Regions from separate parts of the Homo sapiens genome. Here region 2 is linked to region 1. The links come from fine-mapping of genetic effects on gene expression. A gene starts in region 1. The other region holds a variant in brackets. All regions are shown on one strand. Distances are between the middles of the regions. Region 1 holds the start of TECPR2 (tectonin beta-propeller repeat containing 2). Region 2 holds the start of WDR20 (WD repeat domain 20).

Evidence for each region.
Region 2: its variant is fine-mapped to the expression of TECPR2 in whole blood (TOPMed, PIP 0.98).

The regions. Positions count from the first base shown.
Region 1 is chr14:102,357,664-102,366,604 of GRCh38, forward strand. It overlaps TECPR2 (tectonin beta-propeller repeat containing 2), which reads left to right and starts at 5,278. Exons shown (of 20, transcript NM_014844.5): 1 at 5,278-5,453. It overlaps CINP (cyclin dependent kinase 2 interacting protein), which reads right to left and starts at 5,227. Exons shown (of 5, transcript NM_032630.3): 1 at 5,182-5,227; 2 at 1,756-1,924. The coding sequence starts at 5,188. LOC124903427 (small nucleolar RNA U13) reads right to left here and starts at 1,239; the gene lies at 1,136-1,239. RefSeq lists silencers at 5,272-5,681, 5,722-5,811.
Region 2 is chr14:102,135,149-102,144,089 of GRCh38, forward strand. WDR20 (WD repeat domain 20) reads left to right here and starts at 4,749. Exons shown (of 3, transcript NM_144574.4): 1 at 4,749-5,024. The coding sequence starts at 4,776. It also overlaps a transcript of HSP90AA1 not described here. RefSeq lists a silencer at 3,989-4,184 and enhancers at 4,785-4,834, 4,845-5,004. The variant G/A (reference allele first, on the strand shown) is at 3,802.

The sequences.
Region 1 (8,941 bases):
AGGAAGTTACAGAAGAAAAGTTTGAGATAGCAGGATTTGGTTCATGAGGTTTAAGGACAAAAGCCATCTCCATAACATAAAAGTGCAAGGTGAAGCTGCAAGCGCTAATGTAGAAGCTGGAGCAAGTTATCCAGAAGATCTACTTAAGATCAGTGATGAAGGTGGCTACATGATACAACAGATTTTCAGTGTAGATGAAACAGCCTTCTATTAGAAGAACATGCCATCCAAGACATTCACAACTACAGAGAAGTCAATGACAGGCTTCAAAGCTTCAAGAGACAGGCTCACCCTCTTATTAGGGGATATTGCAGTTAGTGACTTTAAGTTGAATCCAATGCTCATTTACCATTCTCAAATTCCTAGGGCCCTTAAGAATGATGTTAAATCTACTCTGCCAGTGGAAAAAGCAAGAGAACCAGAACTGGAAGTGGGGTCTGAAGATGGAACTGAATTGCTGCAATCTCATGAGAAAACTTGAACAGATAAGGAATTGTTTCTTATGGATGAGCAAAGAAGGTGGTTTCTTGAGATGGAATCTATTCCTGGGAAAGACACTGTGCACACTGTTGAAATGACAACAAAAGATTGAGAATATTATATAACTTAGTTGATAAACCAGTGTGAGAGGTCTAATGTGGGTAAACACTATTAAACAGCAATGAGAAAGAACAGAACCAGAATAGTGGCTCTACATTACACGCATGGCTTCCATGTTGAAAGACAGTGAGACATGGCTGGGCGCAGTGGCTCATGCCTGTAATACCGGCATTTAGGGAGGCCAAGGTGGGCAGATCACTTGAGGTCAGGAGTTTGAGACTAGCCTGGCCAACATGGTGAAACTCTGTCTCTACTAAACATACAAAAATTAGCCGGGCATGGTGGCAGGTATCTGTAATTCTAGCTACTCAGGAGGCTGAGACAGGAGAACCACTTGAACCTGACAGGCAGAAGTTAGAGTGAGCCAAGATCACGCCATTGCACTCCAGCCTGGGGGATAGAGTGAGACTCGTCTCCAAAAATAAAAAATAAAAAATAGAAAAAGAAAGTGAGATATAAAGGAAACAATAACATATGTTTTTTGTTTACGTAAAATCCAAAAATGGATGAAAAGAATTCATGGTAGTTTTTTCCATATCAGCTAGGTAATGTGCCAACATCATAGCAAAGTTTGAGGAAGGCACAGGTCATACATGAGCATGAAAACCCAATCATTATGCCTATGAACTACAAAAGAATCAAAGAATCTGTGGTTTTAAAAATCAGAATAGCCAGGCACGGTGGCTCACACAGCACTTTGGGAGGCTGAGGCAGGTGGATCACGTAAGGTCAGGAGTTCGAGACCAGCCTAACATGGTGAAAGCCCGTCTCTACTAAAAATACAAAAATTATCTGGGTGTGGTGACGGGCGCCTGTAATCCCAGCTACTCCGGAGGCTGAGGTAGGAGAATTGCTTGAACCCAGGCGGTAGAGGTTGCAGTGAGCTGAGATCGCGCCATCACACTCCAGCCTAGGCAACAGAGTGAGACTTCATCTCCAAAAAAATAAATAAATAAATAACTAAATATATATATATATATATATATATATGGAATATAATTTTGTATTTAAAATGTACAATACAATTTATACTTACACGTATCATCTTACCACTTGCTTTTTTTGCTTAATATTTTATTTTAAAATTTATTCACATTATTTCCCCAGTTATTAAGGGTGAAAAACTTAGAGCATGAAAAACCAATATGTACTTACAATAAACTGATTTTCAAGTTGGCAATATTATTTGCAGTGGTAAAACCTGCATCATTGAGGGTTTCCCACTTCAGGATTAAATTGTGCCAATCAGCCGCATTGTCCTTAATTTTTCTTGCACTGACAGATAAGACAGGTTTTCTGGGCGTTACAGTTCCAAGAGTCTTTGCTGATAGGGTATAAAAGAAACAAAATTATTATCATGGAATATACAATCATAGTTGGAGGGCAAATGTCCTTATAATTTTCAACAGTAAAACTATCTGAAATGCTGTATCAACTGGACAAATAAATGTGGAAACTACAAAGTCTGAATGAATGTGAAAGTTCCTGGAAGAAGACAATATAGAATATTTTTAACATTTTAAAATTCACCAGATAGAGCTGAATCCTCTTCCAGCTTAATGGCTCCACAAAGTTTTTACCTTAAGCCCTTTGTTTTCCAAAGATTGGAAATAAGGTAAAGTTGTGACTGTCTGCTAAAACTCTTCAATGGCTCACGTTCCCTTCCCTACAGGATAATCTAGCCCTGACTCCCGAGTACTTCCACTATCTAGTCTCAGGCACTCTGATACTTTAAATTTGCTCAGAGTAGCGTGGCCCATGAGTGCTAATCATTTCAAGACACTGAGACAACAGAGATGCAGAGTTGATCACGATGCTGCCACTGCCCTTCTTGGTAATCAGGAGGAAGTCCAAAATCCTTCCAGACCTAGCTACCCCTCCACATCATCACGTACATCAACCCACACCTTGGCCCCCCGTCAATATCCAGCGAAAATGAACTACTGGCAGCTCTTGAAAAGCTGAGGTGCCTGCAGGCCTTTACACGTGTTCTCTCTGCAGGAAAGCTCCTTCCTTCCTCAGGCTCACGATGCCCATCCTCCAAGATGCACCCGGATCCCACTGCCTGTAGGAAGCAACCCCCAGACCACCAAGAGCCAACTCAGGTTGTTTGTTCTCCCCGAACCCTCCTGTGCCCTCTTGCCTTCTCTACTTTGAACCCCACAAAGGCTTCTCACTGCCCACAGGATAAAGTCCTCTTGAGGAATCCAGGACACACAACAGCTGGATGGTTTGATGCCTCAAGTCAGAAGACCACACTGCCTGCGTCTGAACCCCAGCTCGCCAGCTGTGAGATCTTGGGCAACTTAATGTACCTTTCAGAGCCTCAACATTTTCATCTGTAAAATGGGAATAAAAATAGTATCTATTTCATAGGATTGCTGAGATTAGATAATATATGTGAAGCTGTGAGGCCTCGCACAAGGCAAAAACCCAGTATCTCACCTGTTAGCTCAAGGGCCTCTACTATCCAAGCTCTGCCCACCACTTCAGCTTCTACCCTTTCCCACTTGCCCTCTGTGCATCAGAGCTGGCTCTGTACAAGTTCTGACTTTGACCTGGAATATTTTTCCTATCTGTGTGTGTCCCCACTCCCCTGCCTCATACTTAGTATCCTCACTTTAAAATATCATCTTGATTTATCATTCATTCTTTACTTAAACAACAAATATTTGCTTACTGCCTACAATACGCCAGGCATGGGGGAATGAAGTGATTGAATGAGACGGACCAGGACCGTTTTCATGGAACTTACTTTCCAAAGGGGAGGCAGATAATAAACAAATGACCACGATCAGTTCAGATCATGATTAAGTGTGTGTGGAAAATAAAACAGGGTCTTGTGTTAGTGTGATCCCCTGAGAAGGTGTCGTTTAGGCTGAGATTTGAATGATGAAAAGCCAGAAATAGGGTAGGTCAGTAGTATGTGCCCTAATTATGATAATGAGGTTGGTGAGTTCAAAAAACAGAAAACAAAACAAAACAAACAAGCAAACAAAAAAACCAGTGTGCTGGAATGAAATAGACAGAAAAGGACTAGTGCGTGAGTAGGTGATCAGACAACTAGAACCTAATAGGCCAAGATAAGAAGTTGGACCGAGGGCAGTGGCTCACGCCTGTAATCCCAGCACTTCAGGAGGCCAAGGCGGGCGGATCACGAGGTCAGGAGATCGAGACCATCCTGGCTAACACAGTGAAACCTCATCTCTACTAAAAAAATACAAAAAATCAGCCGGGCGTGGTGGCGGGCGCCTGTAGTCCCAGCTACTCAGGAGGCTGAGGCAGGAGAATGGCGTGAACCCGGGAGGCGGAACTTGCAGTGAGCCCAGATCGCGCCACTGCACTCCAGCCTGGGTGACAGAGCGAGACTCCGTCTCAAAAACAAAACAAAACAAAACAAAACAAAACAAAATAAAAAAATGAAGTTTGGACTTCTAAGTATTAGCTTGGTGCAAAAGTAACAGATTTTGCCATTACTTTTAACAGCCAAAATTGCCATTACTTTTGCACCAACCTAATACAATGGGGAGTGAGCAATGAGCTCTGGATAGGGCAGTGAAATTATCTGATTTAGGTTTTTAGAAAGTCATTTCCACAGAGAAGTATTCCTGGATCCCCCAGGTTGGGTTACGACTCACCACTAGATATGTGGTACACCCTATAATTCTGCTATCATGATATTCACCAGTGGAGTGTATTTGCTTGTTTAATGTCTATATTCCCTGCTAAACTGGAAATTCGACTAGGGTAGGAACTATGTCTCGTTCTCTTTCAAACCTTCCACACATAGGAGGCTTTGCATAAAATGAGGTAAATGGAGGAATAGCTCTTACCACCTGTTCTATAATTGTCTAAGGGTTTTCCCCCCAACAGGAGATTCTGAGGGCAGGATCACATCTGATTCATGGTCAGCCTGACTCATACGGGGCACATATTTAGGAACCAAAAACATAACTGACTTCAAGAAACTCAAGGGCTGGTAAAGACAGACCAGTCATCAGCGTCACAGGACAGGGTAGGGTGAGGGCACAGTGGCTAAGTTACTTATCCCCTCTGAGCCTCGATTCCCCATCTGCAAAATGGGGTTGACATTACTTCATGGGACCACTGTGAGGTTCAAATGAGATGATCCACTTAAAGTGCTTGGAGCAGTACTCAGCAAACTGAGCACTAGGCGAAAGCCAGCTTTCATTACAAGCAGAATGTTCTGACTGAGGGCAGTTCAGAGAGGAGTTTCTGGACGAGATGAGCATGCAAGGCTTGGTACCCAGTGAACTCTGTTAGTACTAATTTATAGTGACAATAATTACAATTTGGATGTCGGATCTGCTGACACTCATTTGCGTATATCGTCCCGTTCATCTGTCACTGCACATGTGAAAAAACGGAGGCTCGGCAAAACTGTCTCCCGAGCAGCTCGCAGAGGCTGCGAGGGGCCTGCGGGCTAGGCTGGGGTAAGACAGAGGACCTCCATTTAACCTCATGTAATCCGGGGAGCTCCTGAGCTTCTGGTCCAACCTGCGGCCTAAGCAGTAACATTCACAGCCACCCCACCCCGGGAAAGGAACCGATCTCACGCACCTTCCATAAGGTCCACAGATATCCGTAGAAGGAGACGCGAAGCCCCGCCCACCCCACCGGAAACGCATTTGCGTCACGTCCGCCCCGCCCGCTGCCACTTGTGGCTCTGCCGCTCTAGCCCCCGGCGGAGCCAGCTGCTGCTCTTCGGTGCTGGCCCCGGTGCCGGCCCCGTTGCCCAGGGAACAGGCTCCCGGCAGCCCCCGCGGCCCGGAGTCCATCCCGCCTCCTCCGGCCCGGCGGGGCCGACGAGTCCGGAGGGGCTGCCGCGGGAGGTGAGTCCGGCGACGCCGCAAGCGGCCCCGACGCCCCCGACGCCCCCGACGCCTGGCCCCGAGCCCCTCCTCGGCCTCCCCCGGGCCACTCTTCCCTTGCCTCAGCCCCGCAGGGTCTCCATGCCCGTCCGCCCCGTCTCCCTCGCCCGCGGTCTCGCCCGCGCGGAGTGGCGGACACTAAATGCCACAACACACGGAGCGCCTGGCTCGCCGCCCGCAGAATCCGGCGGTCCGCAGCGGGGAACAGGGGCCGCCCGCCCCTCCTCAGGCCTCCGCTGCGCGTCCCGCGCCCTCGGCCCCCGGCCCCACCCTGCATCCCGGCTGCCGGTCTGGCCGCGGGCTCTGCTCCTTCGCCTTAAGATTGACGTCGTGTTCTGTCCCCCACTCGCAGCCCGCGTCCCTTACATCCGCCCACCGGCGCCTGGCCCCAGGCCTTGACACTCATCCAGTTGGTGTTCAGTGTTCGATGAGTGGATAAGTGAATGACTCCTTTCCCAATCCTATTTGAAGGCATGGGAGGCAGAATAGGTAGTAAGTGTTAAAGGATGGGGTGTCCTGGAGTCAGAGCCGGGCAGGTCCCAGCGGCCCCTTCCTAGCTCTGTGCTGGGGCAAGTGCCCTACCTCACTCCGCTCCAGTTTCATCACCAGTGGAATGGAGATGAGAATAGTTTCTACCTCTGGCTTGGTAAGAGGATTAAATGGGTCAGTGCATGTAAAGTTAAGCACGGTGCCTGCCGCTGTACATTTCAGTAAAGGGGAGCCCCTGCTGTCATCTGTGCTAGCCTGCGTTCTCGCCCTCTAGTCCCTTCTGATATGTCTCTGACTTCTCATGACTTTAGTTTCTCCTTCTCTACCTCCATTTCTCTTCCCTGCACTTTTTTCTTCCTCTCTTATTGGGATTCAGGAATTTTATTCTGTTCTGTGACTTATGTTCCATGTGTTGGCAGAATGTGGGATACCAGCCTGGGTGCATCCTTTTCTCATCTATTGGAGTGACCAGTTGCACTTGTGGACTGCCTCCTTGCAGCCAAGGTCTTGTAGACAGAGTTCTGGGAAATCTCAAAACGCAAATCCCAGGCATAGGTAGAATCTGGGAATGAAGCCACTGTAGCTCCTTGTGATCACCAGCGATTCCTGGTCTTTTAGGCTGCAGGACTTTGTGTTTTCTCACACCCAGCTATAATGTACCTTGATAAACCTCTGACCTTATTTTTGTTGTTGTTGTTGTTAACCTGACTTACGTCCCATATTGGTGGTTATTTGGCCATCGTGTGCCAGCACTGTGCCAGGCTGGCTCTAGGGATGCTGTGGTGAACCAGACAGACCCTTCCTGAGGTCACTGCCTCAGAAAGATCATGGTCTGGCCCATGAACTTTAAAAGGGAGAACTAAGTGCAGGTGTAGGGGACACACAAATTGAATTTTCAGGACTGCCTTGGAAAACCAGTGGTGGGGAAGATGGAATGAGGATAACCCTCTTCTGAAGGAGTGACTAGGAAGTAGCTTTTGTTAGGCATCAGCTATATTATACCCACGTGTCTTTTTCAATAGAAGACTGGCATCTACTGGATTTTTTTTTCCAATTTTTTCTTAAAGAAGTTACACTTAAGTTTGGGGAGAATTTCATTTCATATTAGCCGCTGTAGGAGTTGAAAAAAATGGCTACTGGAACTTAGTGGGAAGAAAAGGAAGGAAACAGGCATCAGGCAGAGGCAGTTGATTGAACTTGGGAAGATGAGGAATAGATCAGGAAAGGGTTATAATGAAAAGCTTTGGTGTCAAGCACGAAGAGATTTCTAGATTCAGTAATGCACAGAGAGATCAGTAAAATTAGAAGGGAGTAGTTGATGGCTTTGCGAATTGCTAAGGTAGAAGGGAGCTGTTACTCAAGATGCATGTTCAATTTAAAATGAATGTATTCTTTGGACCTGGACATAAGAGTTCTATTGACTTTTTGCCACTATTTTATATTTAGGGCTGTCATACTTGGGTGAATCTAGCACAGTGCTTTGAGAGAGAGATTCATTCAACAAACGTGTATTGAGCATTGATTGTACCATACTCTTTATTGGTCTTTTAAAGCACCACAAAGTATACAGACTAGAAGAACATAGGTGAAGATGAGAAAGAGTCCATTGAAGGGGAGAGAAAACAGATAATGATGGTGCTGTGCGATAACTGCCATCATGGAGTTCTGTGAAAGCAGAGAAAGACCAACCAAGTATCTGAGGGAATTTATGAAGGCTTCCTGGTGGCGGAGGACTAGTTCTTACAGGGCACATGTGGGGGAATAGGGAAGAGTGGAAAGGGACTTTGTTCTGCAGAGACATACAGGTTATGGTGTGTGCAGGGACTGTGATGGAAAGCTGATGGATGCACAAACAAAACGTGGCCTGTCTACACAATGGAAGGCTGTTCAGCAATAAAAAGGAACGAAGTACTGATTTGTGCTACAACATGGAGGAACCTTGAGAACATTAGGCTAAGTGAAAGCAACCAGACACAAAATACCACATATTATATGATTCAATTTTGATGAAATCTCCAGAATAGGCGAACTGTAGACAGAGAGGAGATCAGTGGTTGCCCAGGGCTGAGAGAAGAAGCGTGTAGAGGGGTGATTGCTAAAGGGTAGGGAGTGCACAGTGTGTGGATGGAAGAGTGGCCTGAGATGAAGTTAGATATAGACTGTTTTGTCATAGTGTCTAATTTCCATGCTTGTGTTAGGCTTTAGCTTGTGACCATTGGGTAGCCAATGGGGATGGGAGCAAGGAAGTGACAAAATTTTGTCTGGAAGATAAATGACTGCCTCAGTCTCATTACGTTCCTCCTTAATAATTTAATACTCAAATAATTAATAGATGTCGTAGCCAGATTTCAAACATAGATTCTACAATAGGGATACAAATTGTTGCTTCCTAGGGATTTTGGAGAGAATCCTGAAACCATTAGTGTACCCAGAGCACTCTGATAACATGGTTATTGTACAGCGAAGTGGATGACTTAGACTCTATATTAGTCCTAGCTCCAGTTTGAGAAATCATCCATCTGGGTGGCAGTTGGGTGTTAGTAGTCAGCAGTGAAGGCTAGCTGCCACCTTCCAGGGTTATGAGATTGACAGGGCTAGTGGGGAAAGGAAGCATCGTAACTTGAAGGATGCCATAGGGTGGTGTTTTGTATTTTTTTAACTGAAATAGTCATGACTAAGGAAGCATTATTCATTATATTTTTATTTATTTATTTATTTTTGAGATGAAATATCACTCTGTCACCCAGGCTGGAGTGCAGTGGCACGATCTTGGTTCACTGCAGCCTCCACCTCCCAGGTTCAAGTGATTCTCCTGCCTCAGCCTCCCAAGTAGCTGGGATTACAGGTGTGCGCCACCACACCTGGCTAATTTTTGTATTTTTTAGTAGAGATGGGTTTCGCCATGTTGGCCAGACTGGTCTCGAACTCCTGGCCTCAAGCAATCCTCCCACCTCGGCCTC
Region 2 (8,941 bases), 220 kb before region 1:
GTGTATTTACAATCCCTGAGCTAGACATAAAAGTTCTCCAAGGCCCCACCAGAGCAGCTAGATACAGAGTGTGGATTGGTGCACTCACAAACCTTGAGCTAAACACAGGGTGCTGATTGGTGTGTTTACAAACCTTGAGCTAGATACAGAGTGCCGACTGGTGTATTTACAATCCCTGAGCTAGACATAAAGGTTCTCCAAGGCCCCACCAGAGTAGCTAGATACAGAGTGTGGATTGGTGCACTCACAAACCTTGAGCTAAACACAGGGTGCTGATTGGTGTGAGCCCAGCTGCCTTCACCTAGTGGATCCCGCACCGGGGCTGCAGGTGGAGCTGCCTGCCAGTCCTGCGCCGTGCGCTCGCATTCCTCAGCCCTTGGGTGGTCGATGGGACTGGGCGCCGTGGAGCAGGAGGTGGTGCTCGTCGGGGAGGCTCCGGCCGCACAGGAACCAATGGAGTGGGTGGGAGGCTCAGGCATGGGGGCTGCAGGTCCCGGAGCCCTGCCCCGCGGGAAGGCAGCTAAGGCCCGGCGAGAAATCGAGCACAGCGCCGGTGGGCCGGCACTGCTGGGGGACCCAGTACACCTCCGCAGCCACTGGCCCGGGTGCTAAGTCCCTCATTGCCCGGGGCCAGCAGGGCTGGCTGGCTACTCCAAGTGCGGGGCCCGCCAAGCCCACGCCCACCCGGAACTCCAGCTGGCCCGCAAGAGCCGCACGCAGCCCCGGTTCCCGCTCTCGCCTCTCCCTGCACACCTCCCTGCAAGCTGAGGGAGTGGGCTCCAGCCTTGGCCAGCCCAGAAAGGGGCTCCCACAGTGCAGTGGGGGGCTGAAGGGCTCCTCAAATGCCACCAAAGTGGGAGCCCAGGCAGGGGAGGCGCCGAGAGCAAGCCAGGGCTCTGAGGACTGCCAGCACGTTGTAACCTCTCAGTATGACTTAAATTGTGTGGGTATTTCAAATAATTGAAAGTTTTTGGACAAAAGAATATGTAATGTCTAAAGCACTGTTTTTAGAAAATTATTTTGGTAGTTGTTTAGAAGGAATTAATGCACAAAACCATCATAATGATTCAAGTTTGAAATGAAAAAATAATTCATAAGGTTTAGAAACTGATGAATTTATTTAGAAATACCCGGTTTGGGCCGGGCGCGGTGGCTCACGCTTGTAATCCCAGCATTTTGGGAGGGCAAGGTGGGCGGATCACGAGGTCAGGAGTTCGAGACCAGCCTGACCAACATGGCGAAACCCCGTCTCTGCTAAAAATACAAAAAAATTGGCCAGGCCTGGTGGCACATGCCTGTAGTCCCAGCTACTCGGGAGGCTGAGGCAGAAGACTCGCTTGAACCCGGGAGGCAGAGGTTACGGTGAGCCGAGATCATGCCACTGCACTCCAGCCTGGGCGACAGAGTGAGACTCGTCTCAAAAAAAAAAAAAAAAAAAAAAAGAAATACCCGGTTTGGGCCGGGCGCGGTGGCTCACGCCTATAATCCCAGCACTTCCGGAGGCCGAGGCTGGTGGATCACCTGAGGTCAGGAGTTCAAGACCAGCCTGGCCAACATGGTTAAAATCTGTCTCTACTAAAAAATACAAAAATTAGCCAGGTGTGGTGGCAGGTGCCTTAATCCCAGCTATTTGGGAGGCAGAGGCAGGAGAATCGTTTGAATCCGGGAGGCAGAGGTTGCAGTGAGTCGAGATTGAGCCATTGCACTCAAGCCTGGGGGACAAGAGCGAGACTTCTCTTAAAAAAAAAAAAGGAAACAAAAAAAAAAGAAATACCTGGTTTGAGGCCGGGCGCGGTGGCTCACGCCTGTAATCCTAGCACTCTGGGAAGCTGAGGTGGGTGGATCACCTGAGGTCAGGAGTTCGAGACCAGCCTGGCCAACGTGGTGAAACCCCGTCTCTACTAAAAATACAAAAATTAGCTGGGTGTGGTGGCATGCGCCTGTAATCCCAGCTATTCGGGAGACTGGGGCAGGAGAATTGCTTGAACTTGGGAGGCGGAGAGCTGAGACTGTGCCACTGCACTCCAGCCTGCGGAGAGCTGAGACTGTGCCACTGCACTCCAGCCTGGGCAACAGAGTGAGACTCCATCTCAAAAAAAAAATTTTTTTTTAAATTCCCGGTTTGAAATTGAAAATCAGAAATAAAATTAGGTCAGGCCCATTTATTTATTTATCTATTTATTTATTTATTTCCTGAGATGGAGTCTCGCTCTGTTGCCCAGGCTGGAGTGCAGTGGTGCCATCTCGGCTCATTGCAACCTCCACCTCCCGGGTTCAAGCAATTCTCTTGCCTCAGCCTCCCGAGCAGCTGGGATTACAGGCATGTGTCACCACGCCTGGCTAATTTTTGTACTTTTAGTAGAGATGGGATTTCACCATGTTGGCCAGGCGGTCTCAAACTCCTGACCTCGTGATCTGCCCGCCTCGGCCTCCCAAAGTGATGGGATTACAGGTGTGAGCCAACACGCCCAGCCATTCAGGCCTAGTTATTTAGATTTGGGTGTTGCTTATTGAATCTTTGAATATGGAGGAAAAGTTATGAGATAAAAAGAATAAAAATAGAGACTATTCAAAGGCTATGCATGGGACTGGGCACTGTGGCTCATGCCTGTAATACCAGCACTTTGGGAGGCCAAGGTGGGTGGATCAGCAGGTCAAGAGATCAAGACCATCCTGGCCAACATGGTGAAACCCCATCTCTACTAAAAATACAAAAATTAGCTGGGCGTGGTGGTGCACATCTGTAGTCCCAGCTACTCGGGAGGCTGAAGCAGGAGAATCGCTTGAACCTGGGAGGCAGAGGTTGCAGTGAGCCAAGATTGCACCACTGCACTCCAGCATGGCGACAGCGAGACTCCATCTAAGAAAAAAAAAACAAAACTAAACCAAAGGCTATGCATGAGACAAAGTGAACAGTTTATTACTGTGATTATAATAAAATGTTGAATTTATATAGGGTAAAATCTTGATAGAATGCTTGAATTATATAGGTATTATGGGAAATACAATGTTATGGTTAATTGAAGAATAATACAAAATTTTGTTTTAACTTTTGCTCGCTGGGTTTTTTTCCCCCCCCAAAAATTATACTTTTTTTCCTCTTGATAATTAGGAAACACAGATAAATTATTTTTAGATGATTCAAGATGCCACTATCCTTCAAGTTGATTATTGTAAAATACGTGTTTTCAATGTAAAATAACACAGTTATGGAGTTTGGGATATAGCCATGGTAACGACAGAACATACCCTGGTGTTTTAAGATTAGGGAAAGTCGGATAACATCAAAACAATTCTAAGAAAAAATTTTAAGTATTTTTCAGGCTCTATTAATTAAGAAGTACTTCAGTGCTTTTTTTTCTTTTTTTTTTCCAACACTACAAAGGCTAAAGATGTTATTATCAAATGTATTACTACATCATTGGCACAGTTTCTATTGGTATCTACTTGCTTTTTAATACGGAAGATGTTTATGATTTACACTCCTCCTACTTTAGAAATTCTCTCCATTCACTTCTTTTGTGCCCCTCCAGATATAATCTGAACTTCCAGGAATAGATCATTCTTGGTGTTACAAATGTTGGCTTCCCCCCTCCCTGGAATTCTATTAGAATGTTTCTGTCACTTTAGAAGCTTTCTTATTCTGGTGTAACATGCCAAGAAACCCAGGTATAAAATAGTGATTGTTGAATCTTACTTTGACACGTGTGCCCGTCCTTATAAATCTAGACCCTGTACATTACATGCATACAACTATCCCTATGGATCTACTAGTAAATAATCTCACAGACTCCACCTGAG[G/A]CTTCTGGAAAAAAAAACAATTACCTTAAATTTTATTAAGAGCTCTTCGTAACCTACTGAGCAAGATCAGTGAATCCTAAAAAGATTCAGTCCCCGGTTCCCAAAGCGCTTCCCCGCCCCGTGTTTCTGAACAGCTGGAGAGGACAAACCTCCGCTAAGAAGCGGAGGCCGCCAGTGCTCATCACACGCAGGAATTAGGATATCTGGCTTGAGAACACCTATGCTGTACCACATTCTTCTCTCCCCCTACCCCGCCTGAAATAAAACATAGTGAAGCGTAAATCTTGAGTCCCTTGGTACCTTCTCAGAAACGGCGGCGAGGAGGCTTCAGAGGGGCTTCCTGGGCGGGGATCCAGACGGTCGCGCGGGTATTCAGCACTCTGGGCGGGACAGTCCCTGTCCCGAAGGGAGGGCCCAGGAGGGGTGGAGCCGTCCCCGCCCGAACACGGGGGCATCCGCGCTCCCCGTAGGGTACCCCGCGTGCTGGCTCCGAAGCGGTGGCCGTCGGGGTGGCGCTCTTCCTCCGCTCTTTGGGGTCCCGGCGCCCCTCAGGGCAGGGCGGGAGACCGCTGAGGAGGCACCCTCAAGTTCACCTCAGGCTCATGACACCAGCCCCGCCGCGGTTCCCCCTGACCGGCTTTCCGCTGGCCCTGGCGGCTGCGGAACGGTCAACTAGACCCCACTAGCTGAAGCCGGCATCACCTGGGAAGCAGCCATGCCGCCCGGAGGCCACACCCGGGGGAGGAGCCTGCGGACGCCCAGTCGGGTGGAGCACGCCAGGTGAGCACGCCTGCGCAGTCGGGCCGTAAACAAGCCCACCCCTTCCCTTTGGCCCGCCCTCGCAGGGCTGGCCCGCGGGTGGGAGGGGCGAGAAGGAAGAGGCAGGGGGTGGGGGAAGAGGGAGCACCAGGAACAGCGCCTGCGCGGTGGGCGTGATCCGGGCACTTAGGGCAGGATGAACGCTGCTTTCCAAGATGGCGACGGAGGGAGGAGGGAAGGAGATGAACGAGATTAAGACCCAATTCACCACCCGGGAAGGTCTGTACAAGCTGCTGCCGCACTCGGAGTACAGCCGGCCCAACCGGGTGCCCTTCAACTCGCAGGGATCCAACCCTGTCCGCGTCTCCTTCGTAAACCTCAACGACCAGTCTGGCAACGGCGACCGCCTCTGCTTCAATGTGGGCCGGGAGCTGTACTTCTATATCTACAAGGGGGTCCGCAAGGTACCGACCCGGGCGTCACCGGAGCCAGCCAGCGGCGTAGGCAGAGGCCGGGAGCAGGGCGGTGACAGTGGGGCCAGGGTGACCGAGAGGGGTGGCCGTCGCTCTTACTTTTGAGTGGGCCGGTAACTCCACTGGGGTACTCCTGAGGAGAGGGGATTCAGGAGTAAGGAGGGTGGTGGCGGTGGCGTTTCGAAGGGGTGGGGGCAGTGGAAAGGGACCGTGGGGCGCGGGGGTTCTGGCTGGGAGGCTCCCGGGGGAGCCGGCTGCGTCCCCTCCAGCCTGGTCCATCAGGCTCTGACATGGCCAGGGAGCGGGCCTGCGAGTCCCCGGAAGAGGTGAGGTGGCCGTCTTGTCTGCTTCGATTGCCTCGCCTCCCTGGAGGGTTGGAAGTCTCGCCCTGGGTTAGAGAACAGGGACGCAAGACGGCTTAACAAGATCTCTGTAAGGCGGAACCGGGGCCGGGAAGCGGAGCATTGAGACTAGGTCAGAAAGAACCTGCTCGGCACGCAGGGCTACTCCACCTGCTGCCGCACTGACACTTCCTAGGAGCCTCTCCTGGTGTTAACATTTCTATTTCCAAAAACATCCGCGGGAGGACGGCTGTCACTGTCTCCGCCGTGGGGACCTTCTGAAAGATTGTTAAGGAGAGTCATCTTGTCCCTTGTAGTATGCGAAGGGCTGAGTACTACAGTTGAAATGATGTTTCCAGTGAACTAAGCTGGTTCAGAGGGGTTGTGTGAGAGTGCCCAGATTAATCTTGTCCAACAAGTCAGACTGTGTCCCAAACAGGGAGTGATATGCTTTAAAAGCTGCTTTAAAGGGACCATCCTTCTTGGCGGGCGAGTTACCGGTAATTCTGTGAAACATGTAAGCATCCTTTAAAAGTATCTCTTTAAAAGCAGCCATTTATTAGAGTTTTTCTTTCATTGGCTATGTAACTATGTTTTCACTGAGAATTGCTTATTTTTGAGATTGTAGTCTTTGACTTGATGTCATGGAAGAGTGAGGAAATTAATGCATCCCACAGCACCTCCAAATAGGACAAGGTGATAAAAGATTAAGTCGTAAATGCATGTTAGCATGAAAATAAATTGTTCATATTGAAGAGTGAACATTCTTCAGGATTTAATATAGCCAGATCCAGTACAGGATTTTCGCTTGTTACAAGAGCTAGGGAAATGACAGTGGTATCTAAATGTAGCAAAGTTGTTTCTTTGATTCAGGGTGAATCTTTTTTTCTTAGTCTTTATGATAATAAGTGTACCACTGTATTTAGGGTATGCTGTTGGAAGTTATTAAGGGTAAATCGCTTGACCTTTTTTTTTTCCTCGTTTGGAATTGCAAAAGCTCGAAGTAGTCTTCAGTCTAGGGGCTGAAGTTTTACTCCTACTCCCAACTTTGTCACTGACTTGTTTGGGTGACCTTGGATAAGTTATTTAACTTCTATTTGCACCTCTTTAAAAAGGGAATGTTACAGTGCACGTTGTAATTAATAATATAATAATCATAATGAACTTTAAGGCCCTGAAACACTCAGTAGATGTAAAATATAGTTAAATACTGACTGTCAAATAAGAAGCTGCTGTCTTGACATTGATAATCAGAGTGAAAGGACCAATTTTGTCTCAGGAAATTAAGTTTAGAATTTTAAGTTATAAAAATTTATATTTATATAAAAATACGATGTGCTTAAAAACTAAATTCACTAACTAGCAATTATTAATGTAGGAATTACTTAAAAATTTTTTTTTCTTTGAAATGTTATGACTTCTGAAGCATCCTAATGGCAGACCTTATCTGGATCTGGTAGCCCTGTTTTACATCATAAAGACAGGTTTCTTGCCTGGAAGTATCATTACAATAGTGTTCTCTTTTAGTGGGACGCTATTCCCTGAAGGGTAAAAGGAGGCAAGGTTTTTAAAACCACACCAAAAAATTATTTTAAACAAGATAAATGTGAAATACGTAAATTGCCCTTACCTGCATAATTTGAGTGTTTTAACGCTTTTTGGGTAAAATTTCATTTTCATGTGGTAGTATCTTGTAGATACATTTGCATTGTGTTGCAGATGTTTCTACTCTCTTTTAATTGTAACTTAAACATTTTTTTCCATGAATGAGTTGGCATTTATTTGTTGTTATTTCTGAGTATAAGTGACTTTTTATGACTATTTTCTGATTTAAAATATAGGAAATACATTTTCCTTAATTGGAAAACCAAAATTTACTTTTTAGAGTTAGTAGTTACAAACATATTTTTGACAGTTGGCTATTAAACATGTTTTTGTTTTTGTTTTTAGAGACAGGATCTCATCCTGTTGCCTAGGCTGGAGTGCGGTGGCGTGCTCATCGTTCACTACAGCCTCAAACTCCTGGGCTCAAATGATCTTCCCACTTCAGCCTTCCTAGTGGCTGGAACTACAGGTGTGCACCACCCTGGCTAATTAAAAAAAAAAATGTTTTTTAGAGATGGAGGTCTTGCCGTGTTGCCCAGGCTGGTCTTGAACTCCTGGCCTCAAGCGATCCTCCCACCTCAGCCTGCTAAAGTGCTGAGATTATAGGTGTGACCCACCATGCCCAGCGCACAGTTGGCTGTTTTGACTTTTTTTTTTTTTTTTTTTTTTTGGTCCTTTGAGGCGTGTAAAATTTTACAATAATTATTTGGATTATTCAGAAGATCTAATTTAGATGAGTAAATTCAACTTAAGTCTGTGTGTAAAATGAGTAGAAAATAGGTCTTTTAAAGAACTTAACTCATTAATTACGTGCTACCATTCCTGAGAGGAAACATGGGGTCCTGGGGAAATGGAGTAGGTGAGGAAGTAGTCTAACGTTCATGCTGAGGAGTGCAATCTTGATCCTTTTAAAAGGTTTACAGGTCAGTGTCTGGAGCTAGAAGGAACTTTAGAGTTTGTTATTTCACCCTCCTCAGAGCGAACCAAGGCCAGAGAGGGGATGCAAACCTGTTAGAATTTTTTCTCATAGTAAGGAAAATGAAGCACAGCTGAGTCTAAACCAGCTTAGAAGAGACTGATCCACCTTTTTGATCACAGGGATATTATATACTCCGAGCACTTCAGAATCTACCCCGGCATTTTGCCATATATTATTTTATTAAATTCTTGAGGTAGATTAAAACATCTTTTCACAATCGAGGAAGTTTAGAGTGGGGTTTCTTGTGTGAGGAGATGTAGTTTTGCAAATTTATTTAAAGACAGTATTAACATTGATTTAATACTGACACTAATCATTTTACCAGATTTGAGTGACTACTGTGATAGTAATAATACCAGGCAAGGTGATGTGAGGTATTCAGAGCTAAATAAGACCCTGTCCCTCTCCCCAAAAGACTTTCAACTACTAGCTTTTAAACATCTTTTTTTTTTTTTTGAGACAAAGTCTAGCTCTGTCACCCAGGGTGGAGTGCAGTGGCACAATCTCGGCTCACTGCAACCTCTGCCTCCTAGGTTCAAGCGATTCTCCTCCCTCAGCCTCCCGAGCAGCTGGGACTACAGGTGCGTACCACCACGCCCAGCTAATTTTTGTATTTTTGGTAGAGATGGGGTTTCATCATATTGGCCAGGCTGGTCTCGAACTCCTGACCTCGTGATCCACCCTCCTCGGCCTTCCAAAGTGCTGGGATTACAGGCGTGAGCCACTGCGCCCGGCCGTAAACATCTTTATTACATACTTTGTTCTCCTTTTTTAAAAAAAGAGATTGTGGTCGGGTGCAGTGGCTCATACCTGTAATCCCAGCACTTTGGGAGACTGAGGTGGGAGGATCGCTTGAGCCCAGGAGTTTGAGACCAGCCTGGATAATATATCAATACCCTGTGTCCACAAAAAAATAATAAAAAAAAAATTAGCTGGCCATGGTGGTATGTGCCTGTAGTCACAGCTACTTGGGAAGCGAGGAG